Regions from separate parts of the Homo sapiens genome. Here all the other regions are linked to region 2. The links come from fine-mapping of genetic effects on gene expression. A gene starts in region 2. Each other region holds a variant in brackets. All regions are shown on one strand. Distances are between the middles of the regions. Region 1 overlaps NSUN2 (NOP2/Sun RNA methyltransferase 2). Region 2 holds the start of NSUN2 (NOP2/Sun RNA methyltransferase 2). Region 3 overlaps SRD5A1 (steroid 5 alpha-reductase 1).

Region 1 (8,181 bases), 33 kb before region 2:
CATTTGCTAGGGTGAAGCGCGTGTATACACAATCCCAGACTTGCGGATGCCCATTAATAATTTTGTCCTCTGGGCTCACAGAGATACAGATATCTCTTTCGCAGCACTTATTCACTACTCACTTGTTAACTGAATAGAGCTAAGATTACCATGTTTTAATAGAGAGGGCCCCTGACTTACAATTCTCAACGCATGATTTTTTGGCTTTATGATGGTAGGAAAGCAACACATATTCAATAGAAACTGTACTTTGGATTTTGATCTCTACCTGGGCTGGTGATCTGTAGTCGATATCCTTGTGATGTGGGGCAATGGCCGAGTTGCTCCAACAGCCATACGATCACAAGGGTAAACAACCAACCCTCTGCAGGGGACTGTGTTGCCAGATGATTTTCCCAACTGTAGCATGGAAGTGTTCTGAGCATGCTGAAGGTAGTCTAGGTGTACTTAATGCACTTTGATGTAGGACATTTTCAACTAATGCTGGGCTTATCAAGACATAATCCCATCGTAAGCTGAAGAGCATCTGTATTTAAAATCTCCTTGTTAACACTGGCCAGCCCACATAGATGCCCTCCTCAGAGGCAACCAAAACTGTCAATTTCTTCTGTATCCTTCCAGTTACTTTACATAAATTCAAAAGCACATGTCTCCAAGCCTGTGTATTTTCCCCCTGTACACAATGGCAGCAGAATGCACATTCTTCTCTACACCTTGCGTTTCTTTCTTGGTGGTCACTGGACTCCAGGACACAGCGAGCTGCTTCAGCCCCTTTGCTGGCCAGTGTCCACGTGGGGGCTCTGCACCATTGGTGTCCCAGTGCCTCGTCATTGATGCTGAGGGCTTCCAGGTTTCTGCTATTAACAACATTGCATCAAATGACTCTGCAGACACATTTGACTCATCTGTGGGCCTGTGAAGTGGACTCGCTGGCTCAAAGTTGTCCTTCTTTTTAGGAAATTTATTTTATTCATCTACTCAACAGGTACGTCAAAGTTCAAAGGAAACAAAGAGTTTTCAGTAAAAAGTTTTTCTCCCATTTAAGCACCCCCACCAGAAGGCAACCACTACTCCCAACCTATGGGGCTGGCTACTTCAGAGAGGCCCTCATCAGAGACAACCCTGCTGGGTGGAAGCGAAAACTCCTTCAGCTGATGTCTTTTCTTCTGCCGTGCACTCTTCGGGAATCGGAAGACCCTTACCAAAATGCTGATTAAAGTTAGAGAAAGAAAATCCTCCATGTTAGGAGCAGTCTTCTCTTGAATGTTTCCTCAGGCTTATCCATACACCATAATAACTGTCCACCTTATTTATCAATTTTTAAGTTTTCTTCTCCCTGTGTGGTCTGTACTTGCTAGCTGCTATTCTGTTGTCTTTGACCCCTACATCCATCCAACACTGGAGGCTGCTCTGTGTCTGGTTACCCGGGGTTGCCTATTCTGACAAGGCAAGGTGCTCACAGGCAGTGCTGAGTGTGGGAGTGACTCCTCGCTTTGAGCGTCGCTACAGGGTGATAAGAGTGGGCTACTTCCCAGGAACCCTAAGGCCGCTATCTTTACGGCTTCTTTGAAGCTAGACAGTTTCCCCAGAGAAGCATCTTTCAACAATCCCCTTCTGTAGACCAAGATCTCACTGCCCTAAAAGTTCTGGGGGCTGAGGGAGGAGAAAGATGCTGAGAGCACTAAACCCATCCCCACACACCTGTGTGGCCCCCAGGTCCCCACCGTGCCCGGTGTCCCCAGTCCAGGGCCTGGACCAGCAAGTAGGATAAAGCACTGAAACTGACTGGAAACAGTTCCCACTGGCCAATGCCGGGACAATCTGAGAACCAAAATAAATGACAGTAATAATAAATAAATAACTGAATAAAACAGAATCCTTGAATCCGTACTGACAGAAAATGAATCAAGAAGCAAACAAAGGACAGAGGAGTGCTTATTCTATGTAATGAGAACTAATAATGTAGAAGTGATGAAAAATGGGGGAAAACAATTTGTAGCTGTCACAGTAAAAACTGGCTCAGGCAAATTATCAAGAAATACTAAAGCTGGCAGTTAAAAGTTTGATGAGAGAGAGGAATATAGTCTTGAAATGTCTCCTTGCACAATACTTACAAATTTTTCAGTGGAGAAACTTGGCAGACAGATACCATGTTACTAATAATAAAACAAACTTCACCACCACTATAAAGAGAAAACCCAACATCGTCAGCCTCCTGGCATGACGCAGCGAGAACACAGCACCACCTCTGTGGTCCTCCTGTCAAAAACGCACACATCACAGGGACACTTCAGACCAACCAAAACTGAAGCACATTCAGACTACCTGACCGGTACCCTGCAAGACTGTCTCAATCATAAAAGACAGACTGGGAACTGTTTCTGACGGTAGTGAACTCGAGACAAGACAGCCAAAGGCAACTGGTGTCACCCCAGACAAAATTGGACATTGTGACTGCAAAGGACATTACTGGGCCGCTGGAGCGAGCTTGCTGGTTTGAGGGTGACCTGCATCCACGTTTCTGACGCCTATGCTGCGAGCTGTAAAGAGGGCCTCTGTTTCCAGGAAACACCACAGGAGCAAGGGGGTAACGGAACACGTCTGTAACTTACTGTCAAAGGGTTCAGAAAACAATGAGTGACATGCAAGCACACCAGAGGATGCAAATGCAAATGTAGAGAAATGTTCAGTGGAGAATGTGGGCGAAAGAGAAATAGGAGCTCTTCACGCCACAGAGCTTGAAAGTATTCCACAGTGGAGACTCCAGAGACAAATCCACCAAAGGCAGTGTGTGGTCGGTGTTTGTACAGACCAACACACAAAATGAGGTAGACAGGAAGACAGCAGCCTTCACAGTAAAACCGCTTTCACTAGAGAAAATAAGGATGTATTCTAACACTGCCATTTAGCCAAAAGTAAGTTTGTTCTTTCTGCTTCCTAAGAGCAAAAACAGGAATCACACATGTATATATTTTATCAATTTTATTGAAATATTCCAAGGATCCCAACCCCATTTAAAAATAAAAATTGTAAAGCACTCCATTCAATAAAAGCACATAAGTCCCCCTCAATAATTAGTATGACAATTCACGATACAGCTCTTACTCTGGGAGAGTTTATTTTACCCTTTATTCCAAAAGGCACAAAGTCATCTGAGGCCTCAGATATTAACCCCACTGCATGTTAATGACACACCACTGAGGTGCAGCTCAATGTAATTATTAAAGCTTATAACACACTTCCCCAAGAATTTATAGATTCTTTCTATAAATAATAATTTAAAAAATACTGCACCTTAAGACCAATACAGGCTTAACAAAAGACCTGAAATTTCTGCAAGGGCAGTTTTGTTTCTTGATAGAAGTACAACTTTTGAAAGTCTATTCCCAGCAAAAGAAACACTAGACCCAGCTTGGCCAAAGAAACAAAATAAAACAAGTGATTTCTAACACGCTAAAAGAGTACATTTTCATCAGCTCCAAAGAAAGCAGTCCTGGTCATTCAGAAGGCTCCTATGATCCCACCAGTCTGCAGTCATTAGAAATATATGCTTTACAGGCCACAGGCTGCTCTGGATTTGGTTTCAGACACCAGTGACCAGAAGAAGCCAGTTTTGCGTGTGAGGGGTGTGGGCCCCCGCTGCCTTGGGCCTGCTCACCGGGGTGGATGGACCCCCGCC[G/T]GGTCACAGCCTGCTGTCACGTCTGGACTGTTGGCCTCTTCTGCATCTGGGCTGTTGGGCTCTCCTGCTCTCTGTCCCTCAGTCACGTCATTGTCTGGCTGTCCGGTGCTGGCTGCACTCTCATTTGTGAGGATAACCCCTTCCTTCTTCTTTTCTCCCAATACCTCCAGCCCCATCATCCTGAGATAATGAAGCCGTTCATTCTTGGGCACAAAAGTTCGAATGGAGGCCTTTCCCCGCCATCCGCATAAGACGATGGGACACTGCAGAGCGTCTGGATTCCTACAAGTGAAAGTGGCTTCATGTAGAACATTAAACATTCCCATAACTAAATCGAATGAGATGTAATATGCAACTGCTTAAAAAAGAAAACCACAGAAAACCCATACCCACAAAACCCCCAAAACTACTGGGAGGACATTTCATCTGGATCCGAGGGGTAGGTTTTCTCAAAGGACTTCCTTCTTCATGTCCTGAGTAAAATTCTCACCCTCGCTTTCGCCCTGCCTCTTTAAGTTCACAATGGAGTAGAGGCCCCAAATCTACAGATTTCACATACACTTTCTACATACTTCCTTCTCAAACTTAACTTACTGTCCCCGCCACCCCGTGTCACCTCACCCCACTAAATGAGAAGCGTTTCTCCACAGGCTCCCTGCAGCTCACCTCAAGTTTCCTAAGTGGACTGAAGCTCCTGAGAGGCTGGGAGACTCTGCCCTTAGCAGGGCGTCAGAGCAGGACCCAGGACCACCGGGAGACTCTGCCCTTAGCAGGGCTGCCAGAGCAGAACCCAGGACCACTCATCCTTTTGATACTCAGTGTTAGCGTGATTTCTTCTCCAGGGACCCCACATGGCAGTCTGAGCCCTGCTGGGCACACAGTGCTCATTTCCGTTCCCAGCATGCAGTGTTACCCACAGTCAAAAACATCCCTGCCTCTCTGAACATGCTCCGAGCCTCCCTACCTTCCAGGCTCCACCTGTCCAGCCAGGAGGCATCGACGCCCCAGCAGAGATGGACGCCACCATTTCCAACCTGCACACGCCCTCTCTCAACTTATCTGATTTCTTTCATACGGGACTCTGACCTAGATTTTAGGCTCCTAACGGCCGTGTTTAATCACCTTTCCATTTTTCCTAATGTAAAGCAGGGGCACAAAGGTGGTTTTAAGAAGTGAGAGGAAAATATAAGAAATTCCCAACTCCCATCTTCTTAAAAAAAAAAAACCATTATTCCTGAAGTTGACCTGTCACCTGTGTATTTCACCAAGTAGAAACAAGTGTTTAAATATGGAAAAGTGAATCCACACCTTAAAATATCCCAATATTTTCTATGTGGGCCACATGGGACTGTTATTTTAAAAACCATTTCTGAGTCTTTGTTCAAACTCTCGTTAAAAACACCCAGAAGCCATCAATCACTAGATGCTCCTGCCCGTTCACCATCCAGACACCATCCGCCTCCAGCAGGTCCCCAGGGTGCTCATGCGCTCGGCCTCGCTGACCTCTCCAGCCCATCCATCTGTTGTTCCCTCACCAAGTTCCTGCCCCTCCCACCTCAGCCCCCACCTGTCCTCTCTCCACATGGCAGCCGGACAGCCTGAACCCTGAGGACATGTGGCCCCTCGGCCTCCCTGCCAACCTCTTACCTATCCCTCCTCCTTCCCTACTTGGCTGGGCCCGCCCCGACCCCCAGCTTGCACCTGCCTCAGGATCTGCGCTTTGGTGGTTCCTTCAAGTTAGCACTGGATCCCTGGTCCAACACTAACTTCCCAAAGAAATCTGTACAGTGGTTCTACCTATTCACTCCCCCAAATCCCAGTCAGCCGTGGACCCCATTCTGTTTCCTCCTCTCAGAAATGGTGTTGCATGTCACCAAGACGGAGCTGTTGCAGGTGAGATCCGAATTCTGCCACTCGTGAGCTGAGGAGCTCTGGGCAAGCCACCTAACTTTCTGTCCCGGCTTCCTCCTCTGGCAAGTGCTGCCAAAACCAGCACCTGCTCCCCCAAGGCCCCCCACAAGGATGCAGCGTGAATACATGCAAGCAGCGTGGAGCAGTGGTCCCGTGGGGACCGTGAGTGCAAGCGTGAGCAAATCCCATGCTCCGGCCCTAGCACTCCTGATGCAGTAACATGTCAGCAACACACATGGCTGAACCAGCCATGAGGACAAAAGAACGGAACCTCACTCAACTGTCCAATCTTCACACTTACTCTGTACAAGACAGAAATTTTCATTGGTTTCTAATGCTTAAAAAATAAGTACTATGCATTTTATTCTCTGTAAGTAAAAATTCACTTAGCCTGAGCTGAGTGTTCTATGAAACAGCATCTTCATGATGACCTACAGGAATATTTTGGTTCTGAAGTTTTCACAAGGCTACTTCTGAGGAACAATCACAAAAGGCCTGAAGAAGGTTCCCACCTTCCCAAGTCACTTTCCTCACCAACGAGAACACTGTAGCTAATGACAAGGCGTGTGTGTCTAAGGGCAGGGCGTGTACTGACTTACGCAGAATCTGGTTCATACTTCAGCACGATGCTTCCCTTTGCTGGAAAAGAAACAGACACACATTTGCCAGGTTTTCCAGGTAGTGGATGCATGCGCTGAGCACATTTCTGCACCTAGTGATGTGTTAAGTATTCTGAAGAAAGAAAACAACAAATAATCTACATTCTTGGCTTCAAGGATCTAGATGGTGAAAAGAGGCCGTCTGGATACATGAACCAAGTCCAAATGACGCAGTAGGGACGATCTGGAAGAGGACCCAGGCAAAAGCCATTCAGGGACTTCAAGGGATGTCACCTGACAATCCACTCTGAGAAGCAAGGAGGCTGGGGATTAACTGCTGGTTAATTCTTCAAAATTCAAAATTAAATAAACTATAACACCAACTCCCAGAATGGCATGAAATACATAAAAATTGTCTAAAACAATACTGCAATCATCTAAGTGCAGGATTAAAAGAAAACCAGTATAAACAGGTCCTTTATCCTTTACAAGAATCTCTACTTTAAATTGTGGTTCTTGCCTGGAGACGGCAGTGGGAGACAGACTCCACAGAGCATGTTTTATATCCCAAAGGAACCACACGAGTAAGTTTTAAACGCAAGTAAGAAACGTAACTGCAAGAAGTGATTCACGTACTTTTGATCAAATTGAGCCAAAAATATTAAACAGCAAGTTATTTAAAAAAATAAACAAGAATGAAGACAACAGAAAGAAAATTAGAACAGCTTGGAGAAATGATTTTTATGCTTAGGGGAAAACGTCACTGGAGTGATCTGAAGTGGAAGTTGATGAAATATAAAAGCAGCAATATGACCAATAATCTACTCCAGCTGGCTAGCAGAAAAGTCAGAACTGCTGGCAAGACTCTTATTTTGCTCTAACACAGGTGATTAAAATCTGCATGTTAGCCAGTCTCGTGAGGCTGTGTACCTTAAAAAACAAATTTACTGGCTGGGCGCGGTGGCCCACGCCTGTAATCCCAGCACTTTGGGAGGCTGAGACAGGCAGATCACAAGGTCAGGAGATTGAGACCATCCTGGCTAACACGGTGAAACCCCGTCTCTACTAAAAATACAAAAAATTAGCTGGGCGTGGTGGCGGGTGCTTGTAGTCCCAGCTACTTGGGAGGCTGGGGCAGGAGAATGGCTGAACCTGGGAGGCGGAGCTTGCAGTGAGCCGAGATCGTGCCACTGTACTCCAGCCTGGGTGACAGAGCGAGACTCTGTCTCAAAACAAAAAAAGAAAAAAACAAATTTGCTCATGCACAGAGACCTGCTTCCACCCACCCCCGACCTGCTGACAGGCAAGTGGGTCAAGAGCTCTGGCTGGGAGGCTTGCCAGGGCTGCTCACAGGCTGACCCCTCCTCTCCCCGGACTCTCTGGCCCAGCAAGGTGAGCAAAGGCCAGCCCTGCACGCCACACAGACACACCACAGGCTGCTGGGCAGCAGCAGGGCACCACCAGAGCCTGGGGAAGTACACCAACCCCAAGATGCCTTTGACCCTTAGCATTCTGAACTGTCAATCAGGGATCTACAGAACCCTCTGGAAATTGATGTAGCCATAAATAAACTGAAAACTATGATTGATAAATATGCCCCAACGCACACCACCTGCATTTTTGCTGGCCTTATAAAGGGAATACAAGTTATGTCTCTATGCATTTCCAACTACTCACCCAGGTCCTTTGCTTGACTGTAGGTCTCACTGCTGAGTTTTCTAAAAAAGGGATTTTCCTGGGTCAACAGTATCTTAACATCTTCCATTGATACAGTAATAATTCTTGAGTTAATAAATGGATACAATGTATATATTCCCTGTGTGAATAAAGAGAATGAGAGAACAGATACCATGATGTCATTCATGAACGACAACAGCCTGCTCTCAGGGGCTATGCTCTTAGCGGCTATGGTGGTCGAGCCCTCACTATGGCCCCTCCCCTTGGACAGGTGTGGAACCCACCCCCCCCTAGGAGGGGAAACCAGCACTCTGG
Region 2 (8,152 bases):
CAAACATGCCCGAGGAGAATCGTAATCCTGTCTTCTTAAAATATTTTAGATGGTTTGGCTCTGTGTTCCCACCCCAATTTCACCTTGAATTGTAATATTCCCCACGTGTCAAGGGCAGGACGAGGTGGAGATAATTAAATCCCCGGGCCGTTTCCCTCATGTTGTTCTCACAACAGTGAGTTCGTTCTCAGGGGGAGATCTGATGGTTTATTAGGGGCTTCTTCCTTTGCTCAGCACTCATTCTCTCTCCTGCCACCCTGTGCAGAGAGATCTTCCGCCATGATTTTAAGCTTCCTGAGGCCTCCCCGGCGATGTGGAAATGTGAGTCAATTAAGCCTATTTCCTTTATCTATACATTACTCAGGTATGTCCTTATAACAGTGTGAAAATGGACTACTACAGTATCAGACCTCTACTTCAAGTACAACACAATCAGTGTCGTCAATCAAATCTTCAAACCAAACGACTTGAGCAAAGTCTACAACCTAGTTACCAGGAGGAAGAAAAGCTTGATCTCGTGAAGGTTACCTCATCTCAGCAATGCCATAACTAGAGGCTGAAAAACATCTACCTTTTCCACTGATCTCACTACAGTGGACAATTAGTGACCACTAACAGCAACGTAGCACCCGTATCATTTTCCTATACTGTACCCTTCAAGCTTTTAAAAATCTAAGATGTGGCATATCTATTCTTTTTTCCCTTTTTGAGACATGGTCTCGCTCTGTGGCCCAGGCTGGAGTGCAGTGGCATGATCTTGGCTTACTGCAACCTCCACCTCCTGGGTTCAAGCGATTCTCATGCCTCAGCCTCCCTAGTGTCTGGGATTACAGGCGTGTGCCACCATGCCTGTCTAATTTTTGTATTTTTAGTAGAGATAGGGTTTCACGATGTTGGTCATATTTATTCCTATATCCCAGCAACACATTCCATGATGGTGATATTCGGTCTTGATACTGGTTGAATACTGACTTAATGTTTGGCCAGTCAGCATTCATTGTGAATGTATATGCTTATCTGTGATAGGGACAATGAAAATCCAAATAGCCAATGAAAGAAAAACAAGCAAATCTGTACCCCATGATTAATGAAAATCTGACCTTGATTTGCGAACACTAAAGGTTATCCAAAAAGGAAAGATAACACTACGTACTGGAATAGTCAAAACCTCAAAAGTTGATGCAAAACGCTTAATTTGGCAGGGCGCAGTGGCTCACGCCTGTAATCCCAGCACTTTGGGAGGCCGAGGTGGGCGGATCATGAGGTCAGGAGATGAGACCATCCTGGCTAGCAAGGTAAAAACCCGTCTCCACTAAAAATACAAAAAAATTGGCCGGGCGTGGTGGCGGGCACCTGTAGTCCCAGCTACTCGGGAGGCTGAGACAAGAGAATGGCGTGAACCAGGGAGGTGGAGCTTGCAGTGAGCCAAGATGGTGCCACTGCTCTCCAGCCTGGGCGACAGAGTGAGACTCCGTCTCCAAACAAACAAACAGACAAACAAAAAACGGCTTAATTCACCTTTTCGTGCATTACTTTTCTGAGAACTCAATACCTCAAAGTTAATAATAACGACTTTCCCACTTATGTAAGTTAACTGAAGGACTGGCGCCTCCGGAGTTCTCCAAGCATCTTTACAAGATGCTATCAGCACAAGGGATCACCTTCATACAACTGAGACTAGAACCGAGCCATGAGGAATAGGTAACCCAGAAGGCACCTCCAGGACAGGTCAAGAAAGAGGTAGCTCCCAGAGTAGTAGCACGCTTGGGTGCTGAGACTCGGAAATGCTACATTGGCTGGTGCAGTCTGTACTGCGAAGTACCAGGAGACAACCTGACAGCAGACAGTGGTAACCTGTCTGTAATGGAAAACACTAAGAGACTACCTACCAGGAGACTGTTGTCAAGCTAAGTCTGTCCTTTTTCTGAAGGCAAAGCAGCCACTCTGCAACAGTTTTGATGTGAGAAAACAAGGGCTGTAAAAGGGAGCTGGCGGAAGTGGTGACATAAAGGAAGAGGCTGGATGTACTAGGAAGAGCTGGCTGAAATCAGTGACTCATAAAGCTGCAAATCGCAAATCGCATGAAAACTTGCGTAGCAATATAATGTTGATAAAAGCACCAGGTACTAGAACATTAGGATGTTTGCAAAGTATACCCAAGCTCTTTAACAGCAAATGCAGTACCAAGAAATATAATTCAAGTGATAGAGATTAATATCCCAAATAAATATTCGGCATGAAGCACTGTGGTACCTACCAACTCAGTGGCTGTGGAACTTCAACTTTCTGACCGTCCACCTCCAGGTCCTCCAATTCCTTAAAATATTTGTTCTTTAAGCAATGGAGAATCTCTTTTGCGTGGCTATTGAAAAATAAGGAAGTTTCAAACTGATCTAAAAAACTAAGTTAATACATTGTATCTTCTTAAATTTAAGACTGCAAGTGTTTTAAAACTAAAACCAACTTTTGCATGGAGAGTAAACATTCTTTAGTCACTACTTTTACACTGTATGCCTTCAAAATTTAAGCAATCCACACTGTTTGAGCCCTAAGAGCAACACTGCATTCCTTCTCTCCTAAGCATATCCTACCGTTAAGTTTTACTTGCGACTCATTTAGAAAGATGTAACTACAAAGATGGAGGGGGGGCGCGGAGGAGGGGAGAACCAAGGGGTTTTATGCATTCTCTATAAATTCTCTTACGTTCCAAAAGGTAAGACCCTCAGCTTCCCTCCTGGAAGATTCCCCAGGAGCCGAATCTTCCTCAGATCTCATTTTCATTTCGTCTTCTAACCTTGCGCCTGCAATACCTCCGTGACCATTTCATTGGACCCTGTGCTCCCCACCTCAATGCTTCCTGAATCCAAACCGCTGAAACGCCACGGTTCTCTGGCACTGTAACACTTGTCGAAGAAAACACCGTCGCCTTTAACCTCCAGCATCCTGGCCCCAACTCCCAAAAAATCAGGCACTGCCTCCCTACCTTTTGTAACCAGTAATTCTTAAAGTGGCCGGGAGCGGCTCCCTGAGAGCGTCCATGAACTGGCCCCACTCGCCCTCGGGCACGATCTTGAGCTCCTGGTAGTAGTGCTCGAACAGCTTGTTCTCCTTGACGATCTCGGGGTAGCCTCCTTCCCAGCCCTGAGGAAGGAAAGAGACGTCTACCCCGAGGCCCAAGGAGCCGCCCCCTCGCCGCCGCCTCGCAGGCCTCGGGGTCCGGGAAGCCCAGGAGGAGCCCCTGGCCCGCCCGCCGGGTCCCGGCTCCTACCGCCTCGCCGCGCTTTCCACCACCCTCGGCGCCATCCTCCGCGTCCTCCGGCCGCTGCTGTTGCTGGAGCCGCCGACCCCGCGACCGCCGCCCCATAGCCCACGCGGCCGCGCACGCAGCACGCAGAAACCGGCCCGCCACGGCCAGAACTCTAGCCCTACACCTCCCGGGACTTCCGGCCGGAAACCAAGGCCCCACGTGTCCGGGCCTGGTCCTTTCGGGGACCTTTGGGGACCGTCCAGGAATAAGCCCAAAGCGCACAACCCGTCTTTCAGAAAAGCGGCGTGACAGGGAAAACAGCGAACAGCTCTAAGGGGAAAAAAATGCTCCAGGAAGCAGCCACAAAGGCGTCTCCGCGCGAAGCGCCCAGGTTTCCCACGCGGGCTCAAGGAGCTCCGCGGACAGCCTGAAGCCGCGCGTGCGCAGAGCGGCGCGGGGTTACTGCGGCCCCGGCGTGGGTGGGGCGCTTGCAGGTCCCTCCCCGCGCAAGTGCTCGCCCCGCCCCCGGGGCCGCACCCACAGCCCCGGCTACCCCGGAGAAGCCTGACTTGAGAACCCTTTCTGCAGAGTCCCGGCAGTGCGGGACTCCGGTAGCCGCCCCTCCGGTAGCCGCCCCTCCTGCCCCCGCGCCGCCGCCCTATATGTTGCCCGCCGCGGCCTCTGGGGCATGGAGCACGCTGCCCAGCCCTGGCGATGGCAACGGCGACGGGGGTGGCGGAGGAGCGCCTGCTGGCCGCGCTCGCCTACCTGCAGTGCGCCGTGGGCTGCGCGGTCTTCGCGCGCAATCGTCAGACGAACTCAGTGTACGGCCGCCACGCGCTGCCCAGCCACAGGCTCCGAGTGCCGGCGCGGGCCGCCTGGGTGGTGCAGGAGCTGCCCTCGCTGGCCCTGCCGCTCTACCAGTACGCCAGCGAGTCCGCCCCGCGTCTCCGCAGCGCGCCCAACTGCATCCTCCTGGCCATGTTCCTCGTCCACTACGGGCATCGGTAACGTCCCCGGCCCCCGGCCCCCTACCCTACTCCCGGCCCGGCGTCCTCTCCGACCCTCCCCTCACTGCCCGGTGCCCTCTCCCCGAAGCCTCCCCCACCCAGATGCCCTCTCCCTGCCAGATCCCCCGGGGCGTCCCCCATCTGCACGGGTGCCCTTCCCCGAGTCCCCCGGCCCCGGGAGTTTGGAAACCAGAAGGGATTCGTCTGGAAAGGGCGGGAAACAAAGGACTGGAAGGGAGTGATGGAAAAAAACATGATGAAACTGATCTGGAAAGAGCCACTCAGTGGTCCTAGGTTTGGTTTCCTTAGCCGGGCGCGGTGGCGCCTGTCTGTGATCCCAGTTACTCGGGAGTCTGAGATGGAAGAATCGCTTGAACCCGAGAGGCGGAGGTTACAGTGAGCCGAGATCTCGCCACTGCCCTCCAGCCTGGGTGACAGAGCGAGACTCTGTCTCAAAATTAAATATATAAAAATAAAGAGTTAAAAAGTAAAAATGTAAAATAAAAATGAAGACTAGATTTTGTTCCCTTAGATCACGACTGTGGGGGCGGGGGGGAGGGGGTTGGCCTAGAGTCTAATGCTGATGGTCGGTCTTGAGGGCCACTGGTTTCTACTCCTTTCTGCCGGTTCCCCTTTTGGTATCTTTGGTGATGGTGGAGCTGTTTTCTCCCAGCCAAGTGATCAGCTGCAACTGGAAACCTGCTGTCCTAAAACTGCCTAGCAGTTTCTCCTTATAGGCTTGATCACTTTCAGAGACTTTCATGTCCACCTTATGCAAGGGACCCCAGGATTGTGGGGGTGGAAAGCCAGCAACCTTAAACCTTAAACAAACGAAGTCTTAAAGATGACTTCTAAATCTTTCAAGGTTTTTGTTTTTTTGAATATTTGAAAACTGGCTGTGTCTGAAATCTTCAAGCCTTCTAATAAGTTGGGGTTCTCTCCAGGTCGTATCTTTTGGCTTTTACACAGCCAAAGCAAACGACAGGTCGAAAGTTCAAAATTAAATTTTAAACGTTTTCATTCAGGCTCTGGAAAGCTTCACAGTTAAAAAGGATGTCTCTACACCCAAGGAAGTTGAACTCACTGGCTGTGTGACTATGGGCAGTTTACCCAACCTTTCTGATTTGGGGTCCCACCTTAAAACACTCACTTCCCAGAGAGACAGGAAGAACTCAGTGTGTGTTTATAAGCCTCTCTTCTTTCTCCTGGTGTCATGCATTCCAGCGAAGAGAAAGTACACAGCTCCACTACTTGGAACCAGTGTTGTACCCAGCACAGTTTTTGGTACCTGAGTTCCCTGAAAACCAGCACCTTACCCTGTAACTGGTGCAGTCTGTGTCCTCAGTGTGCTTTGATGACTTGCACTTTAAACAAGGGCAAGTCAACATTCATCAGAGGCTTAGTGAGTACTGTGTGCCTGAAACTCTTTACCATTGCTTTATTTTTTTTTTGGAATGGGATCAACCATTGCTACAATTTGAATATTAGTCAGACTTTGCTGTTTGTATATACTTTTCCATAAATATACCAGAAGCTGTATGTCTGTTTCTTTATGGCTAAAAGCAATCTCAGGTCAGAGTATTCGGTGCTATCCTAGTCCCATCAGTCATGACCCTGGATGAGTTACTAAGCTGCCCCGCAGCAAGGTTTCCCCACCTGTAGAATGGGCATGGTGATGGAACCCCCCTGTGGGATCACATGAATTTAGAGCAAAGGCAACTCCCTAAAATGCTTGCATGGTGCTGGCGCATCTGCGTGCTCAGTACACAATACCTAGCACTATTTTGCATTGCTGTGAATGCACATCCAGACATGTACTCTGTGTGTCATTCATGTGCACTGCTGCCAGCCTCATGTGCCAGCAAAACTGTGGTGTTGGAAATCAAGGGAACACTTGACAAAGTTTTGCCTGACATCCCAAGTGGAAGCTTTTTAACTTGAGACATCATGTTTCATTGTACCTACATTCACTCAAGCAGAAAAATGAATGCAGCCTCCCAAAGGGCCAGAGTCACCTTGAATGATAGAACTTGAACAGCTCATTCATACAGAGTAGAACACGGAGGCACAGCATGCTGCTGTCTTCCCTGAGGCTGTTGGATAAGGAGCTGCTGGGATGAAAGCCCACTTCCTATACTAATAGTTTAAAAGCTGCTCCAAGAGGATTGGCTGGGTCAGGTATAGTTTTTTTTTTAAATTGCTAGGCTATTTTTTTTTTGAGTTGTACATGTTATTGTGTACATAGTCTATGTGGTTTGGGGACATTTACATTTTCCAAATAGAAAAGATAAACATTTTCCATTCTACCCAAGCAACTAATTTATTAAACAGTCACTTGATCTAAGTCATGAGCACTTGGAAGAGAACCAGAGTGGAAACAGCATTTAGCACTGAACACAAACCATCCCAGCAGCCCCTGGAAGCGTCCTGGAGCCCTTTATTTGCACAGGGCCCTGCAGAGAACGGAGAACACCACACCCGGTGAGAGGAGGCTGTGGGTACAAGGATGACTCTTATGAAAGGCAGGAGAAAAGTGAGCCTGAGGAGGCGCTGGCCAGGCAGAGCCAGTACCACCTTACACAACCTGACAGGTGTGCACACAGGCCCTGTGCTGACCTGTGAGGTTTCGCTGGAGTGAGGTTGGGCCCTGCCTTGGGGAACTAGAGCCTCTTTTGGGAGTGGCAAGGACCAGAGCCAGGTCCAGGGACTTTCCACAGTCCATGAGGCCTGAAGGCAGCAGCAGAGCTACAGCTCTTCCCAGAGCAACTGACTGTTCTGGGAACAATGAGTACAGGACAGTCAGGTCAAGGAGGGAGGAAAGGTGAAGGAAGGGATAGAGGGAATGGTGCGCTTTCATGTATTTATTCAGCAAACACTTAAGGAAGACTTACGTGCCAGTGAGGATTTCTGGACCTGGCGTTGTGCTGGGGATATAGTGACAAGACATTCCCTTTGAGTTGAGGAGTAAAAGACAGGTTATGGAGAATCTATGGGGTCTTTTGGACACAAACACCAGGGAGGGAAGGACAGGCTGCCTGGAAGGGGACAGGGCTGGGGTGGGGGGATAGCCATGACGCAGGACGAGCTGTGGTCCTGACCAGTTCCCCCAGGAGGGCAAAGGACATTTTCAGGAACATCTTTAGGGCTCACGGTAGCGACAAGGATTGCCTGCCTCCTATCTGTGCTGAAGCCTCCTTCTGATCCCAGGGCGCTTGGGTTCTTGGGTGCAGGGGCGGCAGCGTCTCACTGGGGCCCTAGTCATGTAGAGCATGGAGTGGCGTCTGGCATGGTGGCAGCCCCTGGAGGCAGGTGCCTTCCCCAGCCTCCTGGCAGGCCTCCCTAGGGCCTTCCGAAGCCTGTGCCTACTCCTATCACCTTTGCCCTCTGCTCTGTGATTACAGTGACGCCCCGCTGCATTTACCCTGTTCCCTGGCCCTCTATTTTGTCTCCCTGGGCTGGTGCTGTAACCCAGGTCCTCATCATCTGTGTTGGTTCTTGCTGGGCTTCTTCACTCTTCCCCACTGGTCTTTCTCTACCCTCGTTTGTAAATCCTGCTTTGCTAGACACAGCAAAAGTCTCCCGGAGTCAAGGGCATTAGCTCTGAACTGTGTCGGAGTCGCTGGGGGGCTTTGCAGACTGTGCCTGACCTCATGCTCTTTCTCTCCACCCACGCAGCTTTGTTCAGTATTCCCTGAACCCAGGCTGCTTTGCTCATGGATTTTCCTTCCCCACTATCAGCAGTGAATTAGTCAGGGGATTGTCTCTGCATTGCACATTCATTTAACAAATAACTCCGAGGAGCCTGAGCAGGAGGTGCCGCTTGCCACGGGAGTCCTCAGTGACTGCCTTTGTTAGGACTGGTGGCCAAATGGTGCCCAGAGTGCACAGTCAGATG
Region 3 (8,163 bases), 33 kb after region 2:
ATGTTCTCCAGGTAAGTATTCACTAGCATCTCTGAAGTCCGTATTTCATTTTGTAGTAAATGCACTACTTTGGTCTGTGTTTTCTTCTAGGAGGCTTATTTGAATACGTAACTGCAGCCAACTATTTTGGAGAAATCATGGAGTGGTGTGGCTATGCCCTGGCCAGCTGGTCTGTCCAAGGCGCGGCTTTTGCTTTCTTCACGTTTTGTTTTTTATCTGGTAGAGCAAAAGAGCATCATGAGTAAGTTTTAAAACACTTTTACCATTTGTAATTTGTTCTTTGACTATATTATTACCATTTTTCAGGCTAGATTTTTGAAGTGTTAATTTAAATCGCTGAATTCCAGTTTATTCTGTGCTTTGGCCAAACAAGTACAAAACCAAATAGCTGTAGAATCACCCAGCTCTAGGGAATAATCAGGTCCACATCAGCACAGTTGTTCTCTATACCACGTCCTTAGCCTCTCTGAATTGACAGTGCTGAATTCAGTGGTCAAGTTAGACACCAAGCAGGGGATTCAGGGCTCTGAATGGGAAATACTGATTAAAACAGATCCCTGACTGAGCAATAGCCAATGGCCAGCTTGCGAATGCTGCAGGTTGAGGAAGTCCTGAAGAGGTAGGTGAATCTCAGAGCCCAGCGACACTGGCAGAACTCATACACACAAGAGCTCTCCAGCTATGTGGTGGCTTAGGCCATGGCTCTGAACCTGGGGTCCTTAATGGGCTACAGAAGCTCTGCATGCCCCCTAAAATGACATCATTTTCCAGAGACCGGGTCCTTGGCTTTTATCTGATCCCCCAAAAGGCTTGCGAGCCATTTGACCAACACACTCATAAAGAAATCAAAGGGACTGGGCGCGGTGGCTCATGCCTGTAATCCCAGCACTTTGGGAGGCCAAGGCCGGTGGATCACTTGAGGTCAGGAGTTCAAGACTCACCTGGCCAACATGGTGAAATCCCGTCTCTACTAAAAATACAAAAATTAGTCAGGCGTGGTGGCGGGCGCCTGTAATCCCAGCTACTCGGGAGGCTGAGGTACGAGAATCCCTTGAACCTGGGAGGTGGAGGCTGCAGTGAGCCGATATCGCACCACTGCACTCCAGCCTGGTTGAGAGAGTGAGACTCAGTCTCAAAAAAAAAAGAAAAAAGGAAAAGAAATTGAAGGATGTCAAGGCTGAAGTGAATTTAGAGAACATCTTTCTAATCCAATGGATGAGGAAACTGAGGTTCAGGGAGCAGAGTCTGAGGCCAGCCAGGAGCCCCATCTCATTGACGGGAAGAGATCTCAGGAGCAACGTGGGATCTTTACCTGCCCTGACATTGGCGCGTGTCCCTGACAATAAATGATGGAGACTGGGCTTAGCAAGCGGCCAGCCTGGTATGCACATTTACTATGTCCCCTGAGCCACCCACTTCATCCACTCAAAACATCTAATCGAAATCTCCAATGCTGCTGATGCTACGAGGTGCAAAAATGTATAACTCTGTCCTACTTCATGGAGTTTATCATCTTTTTTGGGACTAAGGACAGAGAGAAAAAGCTAAAAGAAGAATAGATTGATATGGTATAGTGGGAAGAGTACCTAGGTGTACTTCCCAGCCTCACCACGAGTTTGCAGATGCAAAGGATGATTATTGGAGATAAGAAGAAGAAAGGTCATATCTGAAGTATCTCTTTGTCTAATTTTTTTTTTAAGACAGCATCTCACTCTGTCACCCAGGCTGGAGTGCAGTGGCACAATCTCAGCTCACTGCCACCTCTGCCTCCCAGGCTCAGGTGATCTTCCCACCTCAGCCTTCCAAGTAGCTGGGATTACAGGCATGCACCACCAGGCCTGGCTAATTTTTTATATTTTTTGTAGAGTTGTGGTCTCACTATATTGCCCAAGCTGGTCTTAAACTCCTGGACTCAAGTAATCCTCACACCTCAGCCTCCTGAAGTGCTAGGATTCGAGGCGTGAGCCAACGTGGCTGGCCTCTTTGTCTAATACTTGAAGAAGTGATAGCATAAATGTGAGCTCTAAGAGCAGCGCCCCGCATTCTTCGAGACACTCCATCGTGCCAGTGGCCTGGTATTTTCACGCATAGACAGTGAGGAGAGAGCGAGATCAGAGAGCCACGACCTACCTAAATCCCAGAGCTGCTGAGAAAAACAGAGGGGTCTGCGGAAAGTTGAGTGAGTGCCGAAGGCAGAGAGGGTTTGAGAAGGAGGCTCAATGCCAGGCATGGCAGAAAACACTGTGGGCCAGGAATGGGCCTTCTGTGCTGAGAACTGTGTCTGCCAGAAGGTCATATGAGAGTCCTAAGCCCTGGCACCTGTGAAAGCGACCTTACTGGAGAACGTTATCAGTTGAGATGAGAAGGGGAAACGTGGATAGACGTACACCAGGTGATCACACAGAGTGGGAAGGCCATGCGAAGATGGACACAGAGGCGGGGGCGATGCAGCCATGAACCCAGGAACACGTGGTGCCACCAGAGCTGGGGGAAATGGGACTGGAACCTTCCCTGAACCTTCAGAGGGAGCGTAGCCCTGCTGCCACCTTGATTTCCAACTCCTGGCATCCAGAACTGGGAGAGAATCAGTGGCCGTTATTATAAGCCACCCAGTGTGTGGTTAACTTTGTTCTAGCAGCCACAGGGAACTGATACGCCAGCCTTCCAGCCATTTAAAATTGACTGGGAAAGTAAGGGCAGGAGTATGATTGGTGAACCCCTCTGTTTTCTCCTCCGCCAGATGACTTTGTTGTCACCGGTTTGGTTGAAATACAACGTTATCTCTCTAAATATACATTCTACAATCTGACTTCCTCCCCTCTGCGCCCGCTGCTCCCAGCACTGCACCTGGCCTGGGCCTCACTTCCCGGTGAAGATGCCATCCTTTTATATTCCTAATATTTGATGTGAAGAAGTGAGTAATGGCTCATTTCTCATTAAAAGAAACAAATGAGATAACACTGACGTTTAAAAAAACACGGATCAGAGTAAGATTGAACATGGGCACACCAAGTCAGTGGCAAAGATGTTTTCTCAAATGAAATCAGGAAACAGGAAAGCCCCTCTCAGTATTTGAATATGAAACATATAGAAATGGAAAATAAATAATTCAGTTATCTAAATGAAAGTCTTTGCTAATGAAAACCCAAAGATAGTCTTTGCAGAAGAGTTCATGAGTTGAAAGAGCTCTTTGTCATTCATTTGCTGTTTAAATTGGTGTCAGTGTGAAACCAGTTTTAAGCCCTGAAGAATTAATCAATTCAGTTTTGCAGAAGTATGTTCAGAAATGTAGGACTTACAAGCTGAGAATAAAATAAAAACTCCTTTTTAAAAAATATTTTCATAAACCCAACTAATTAAGCCATCAAATAAAAGTATTCCAAAAGAAAACATGCCAAGGATCTATTCCTTGCACTCCATTTATAATGTTCTTTTTTTTTTTGAGACAGTCTCGCTCTGTCGCCCAGGCTGGAGTGCAGTGGCGCGATCTCGGCTCACTGCAAGCTCTGCCTCCCAGGTTCACGCCATTCTCCTGCCTCAGCCTCCTGAGTAGCTGGGACTACAGGTGCCCGCCACCATGCCCGGCTAATTTTTTTGTATTTTTAGTAGAGACGGGGTTTCACCGTGTCAGCCAGGATGGTCTTGATCTCCTGACCTCGTGATTTGCCCGCCTCAGCCTCCCAAAGCACTGGAATTACAGGCGTCAGCCACCGCGCCTGACTGGATTATAACGTTCTAAAAACAAAATTGTATTCAATGAAATCTTTCTATAATAATCAGTATTTAAATTCATAAATGATTGCATTGATAGTTAATGCATTGATTTCTAGGTCAGAAACAGTCAACTGTGCTGGGTTGCTAACAAATATTCTCTTAAAGGGCAAAATTTAAAGGTATTCTAAGGAGTAAGAAAAATTTAATCATTTAAAAATAAATATTTTATTTCTATATAATGGTTTCTGTGAAATACACTTAACCTCTTCAGCCAACATCCCTTCATTGTGTGAGAACACCCTGACCTCACACATGTTCTTTCTGATGTCACGGAGCCCAGCCTTGCTGCCCAGCCTGGTGGGGGGGCGC[G/A]TTTTCTCGGCATCCTGCGGCAGTCCTGTGTTTCCCATCTCCCACCTGCCCTCTCGTGTTTGCCCATTTCAGGCTCTCCTGCTGTCATGTACTCTGCCCTTGCCTTTTCGGGCCAGGGTGCCCATCTTCCCACGGGCAGTTTCTGGGAGAGAGGCGCTCACCTGCTATGTCACTGTGCGGCGGCCAGTGCCGCTGGCCCATGGGGAAGCTCTTCAGCACTTGCAAGTGCTGGATGGCCTGGATCCCAGCAGGCCTGTGAACACCTTCAGCCTCTAACCAGCGAACATGTTTGCAATGCACTTTCGCAGGTTTGACACCAGCTGTTAGGCTTGGCCACGTTGTGTGTTGGGCACTCGTGGGTCCATGCGCCACCACTGAGCCACGTAGCTGGAAAGGCTGCAGTCTCGAGGCCTCATGCCAGGGGAAGTGACGCTTGATCCGGAAGTCCTGACCGACTTCTTAGAATTGTTCTTATTACATGCCTTTTTGGGGACACAGAACATACAAAAGTAAACGTGGCCGCCCAGTATGTTCGAATTCTCTATTTGTGGATTCCGGTGTTAAACTTAACTAAGACCAGCAGGGTTTTGCCAACTCCCTCTCAGTTTCTCGTCCTCATATGTTTCTACCACATTAACAATGAGCTAATTGCTTTCTATCATGATTTTTAGTCTGTTGTTTAATCTTTCTGTGTGTGTTTATAGAAACTCCCTTTCTCCATCTTGTCAAATTATTTCTAATTTTTACTCCATGCACTTAGTTGCCACCTTTCCCAACTGGCTATTATCCCCAAAACAAATGAGCACGCCTGCATTGATACAATTTATATCAAAACGGAAAATAATGTTTGTTTCGAGCACAAGGCTGAATGGTGGACAATGCCATATTGCATTTCCCCAGATTTCACCGAATCCTTACTAAGAGCGTTCATGAGCCTCCTGGTATGCAGCTGGGTGCCCACTCTACACACCCTGGGCTAGGCCAGTAGTTCCCAACTGCAGGCTGGAGAAAACTGCTGGAGTCACCAGCAGGTATTCAGGAAGCACCTACTTGGTCCTGCCCCTCCTCCAGCCTGCATGCTTTCCCCGGGGGCTGAAAAGACAGCTCCGCAATGTGCTGATCAGTATTTTCATCAAATGTCAGTAATTTTCCTTCCAGATAGAAAGGTGAATTCTATGGGCTACTTCTTCTGAATCACACTTTATGATTAGATATATTTAATTCTTCATGATAATAGGCAAAATTAAACTATAAGTATGAAATGCCAAAGTTTTTGTTACTACATTTAAAAAACTGAGTACTCTTTTGTAATGAAAAATATTGTCACTTTTGTTAGCATTGGTTAAATGTCTAAGCGACAGAATTATTTCCTTTTTTAATTTTTTTTTCTTAGGTGGTACCTCCGGAAATTTGAAGAGTATCCAAAGTTCAGAAAAATTATAATTCCATTTTTGTTTTAAGTGCGTTTTTCATGAAATTATCTTCAACTTGAAGCTTTCCAATGGCGCTTCTCTATGGACTTTGTAAATAAGTTATATCTTTGTAATTTTCCTGCTACTTTATCATTTTCAAGATGTCCTCTAGGAATTTTTTTTCTAGTAATTTTGCAATCTACCTAATAAGTACCTAAATACGCTGAAATGGAGGTTGAATATCCTACTGTGTAACAGGTCAGAATTTCAAGCTCTGGGTAATAACTGCTGATATTTTTTCTAATTTCAAATTTACCTCTTTTGGCTATGTCTTGCCAAGTGTGTATGAGACTAGACTTTACAACTGTCTTTGATGGCATTTTCAGAACAATAAATGTCACAATCCCTTCTATAGCCCCCTACAGTGATCTCTTCAAGGTCAACTGCAGTGTTGCTTCCCTCCCCCTATAGGGCTGGAATCTGTCTAGGAGCCCTCTCTCGGAGGCCACAGAGGCTGGGGGTAGCCATTGTGCAGTCATGGCCCGGGGGAAACTTGCCAACCTTCGTGTCAGGTGCTGTGTGTAAGTGGAGAACTTGGGGATAGAGGAGGAAGCTCCTCGTGGCCCTTCCAAGGTGAGGCAAAGGCATCTGGACTTGTTCCAGCCCAGCCCACCGGGTGACATCACCGGGCAGGGAGGGGTGCTGGTGGTGGTTCATACGGAGTAAGCTGCTCTGCCTGTGTGAGTGGCTCCTGGGCCCTAAACAGGCACCTTTAGGCCATGGGTCACTCACCGTGAGCCATCAATGTGCTCTGGTCTGACATGGTTTCTCTCTGTCTTCTAGTCTAGACCTAGTTTTTTTGTTCTGTTCCCCACGTATGGATATAGTAGAGATTGTTGTCTGTGAAATTTCTCTTTTGTAGATTTTGAGTTTTCCCTTGTAGTGTAAAGAATGATCACTTTCTGTAACAATAACAAGACCACTTTTTAAGATTTATCCTGTTTGTTCTTTGTTGATTGAAACATAATAATTGTTAAAATTCTCTACAGCCTTCTTTTTCTTCCATAGCTAATCTTCCTTCTAATAGTTTTTGCTTTCTGTTTTGCTGTTGTTGCTTTGCAAAGCTTTCCCCTCATAGCCTGTACCTGTTATCAATATAAAATAATCTTCCTGTTGAATGCTTCATGACTTGAATTCTACTTTGATAAAAACATTGCCATACTGCTTTTTATCTTGATGAATTCATCTGGCATTGCTTTGCCTTATCATCTCATCTGGAGTTTTTAAATGCCATTTGTTTCAGTTGTCTTTAACAACATAATAAATAGACTTTGCCATTTAACAAGGTAGCTCAAATTCTTTTACTAATTGTTACATCGAAACATTCTTTCATCATATTTCCTGTTTTTATTTGGTTTTTTCAACTTCTTCTGTTTACTATCTACAGTGATTTGGAAAGGAGATTTCCTTTAAAACAAACAAGCTTATTGGGAATGGCTTTTATGATTTTTAAAGTAGCCTTGAGAGCTTCCAGTTAAATCTGATGAGCTGAACATACACCTTTCCTTCTCCCCTCTCTATTCTGACCCCAGTTGAAATCACCTCAAAGGAATTTAGGTGGGGGAGTGGCCCCATAAAGAGAGTGAGAGAGAGTCACCACTGCAGATGGACCACAGCACGGGTGGAGATGGGCCTGATGTGGCAGAGCAGAGAGGCCATGACAGTGCACACCCTGCGGAGACCCTGGGTCCTCACATCTGGGCTGACAGAAGGCAGAGGGAAATGAGCATCTCAAAGTGAGACCAACTAAACATGGCGCCTGCAGCAGAAAGCAGTGTCCTCTGCACCCCCACTCTCCAGGGAGAGCACAGAGAGCCCAGAAATGAGCCATGTGCCCATTGCCGGGGAAGAGAAGGTAGGCTGAGGAGGTGGCCTTTCCTAACACAAAAATTAACTAAGTGGGGAAAACCAGAGAACTAGGTGTTGGCATCCCAGGAAAAAAATAAAGTCTCCACATTTTGGCCTATAGGGATCCTGCCCCATAATGGCTGGTTACCTCCTGCCTCAAGCTGCAGGGAAGCCAGGGGGTGGCATGGCCATGGCTTCTCCCTCAGAGAGGCCTCTGTGCACGACTTCAGTCACCCAACACTGACAGAACTTGGAACCCAAAAGCCCATTTCTCTCCTTCCGTCCAGACCCTGTCTGCTGTTATCTGTAGGAAGACCACAGCCAACTGCTATCATGACCAAAGCTAAAATCCAATGAGGCAGAGAACAATAGTTGTACCCATCTCCTCCTTAGTCTCCAAGGCCAGCGGTGCATGCATTTGTGCATTCAACAACATTTGCCAAGCACTTACTGTATATCAAGCACAGCAGTGGGTGCTGAGGACGGATGGGTAGAAAAAACAGTCCTGGCCCAGGTGGAGTGACAGGTAAGAAACAAGTAAGTAGCTAAAATAATGTTAGGTAGAAAAAAATAACAAGAATAAAAGCAAGGAAAAGGGAAGGGACCCTCACTTGTGTCTGATACAGCCATAATCTTCTCTATCGGCCATTGCTGTAACCAAAGCTTAACCACCTTTCTTAAGATATTGATCAACCAGATCATTGCAAATACTGCTAATTGATTCCTTTTTATGGCTGAGTAGTATTCCATTGTATATATA

The links. PIP is the estimated chance that this variant, and not a neighbour inherited with it, causes the effect. A credible set is the group of variants that fine-mapping cannot tell apart.
Region 1: its variant is the best candidate, but not a certain one, in a credible set for the expression of NSUN2 in putamen (GTEx, PIP 0.75).
Region 3: its variant is the best candidate, but not a certain one, in a credible set for the expression of NSUN2 in whole blood (INTERVAL, PIP 0.59).

What each region holds. Positions count from the first base shown.
Region 1 is chr5:6,596,272-6,604,452 of GRCh38, forward strand. It overlaps NSUN2 (NOP2/Sun RNA methyltransferase 2), which reads right to left. Exons shown (of 19, transcript NM_017755.6): 17 at 7,867-8,005; 18 at 6,190-6,229; 19 at 2,968-3,961. The coding sequence ends at 3,655. Among named protein-coding and RNA genes, the nearest start is that of LINC01018, 18 kb to the left of the region's middle. The variant G/T (reference allele first, on the strand shown) is at 3,680.
Region 2 is chr5:6,629,616-6,637,767 of GRCh38, forward strand. It overlaps NSUN2 (NOP2/Sun RNA methyltransferase 2), which reads right to left and starts at 3,429. Exons shown (of 19, transcript NM_017755.6): 1 at 3,269-3,429; 2 at 2,984-3,141; 3 at 2,258-2,362. The coding sequence starts at 3,364. SRD5A1 (steroid 5 alpha-reductase 1) reads left to right here and starts at 3,825. Exons shown (of 5, transcript NM_001047.4): 1 at 3,825-4,254. The coding sequence starts at 3,962. RefSeq lists enhancers at 3,525-4,036, 4,037-4,548 and a silencer at 3,672-4,061.
Region 3 is chr5:6,662,726-6,670,888 of GRCh38, forward strand. It overlaps SRD5A1 (steroid 5 alpha-reductase 1), which reads left to right. Exons shown (of 5, transcript NM_001047.4): 4 at 91-241; 5 at 5,477-8,163. The coding sequence ends at 5,543. Among named protein-coding and RNA genes, the nearest start is that of SRD5A1, 33 kb to the left of the region's middle. The variant G/A (reference allele first, on the strand shown) is at 4,084.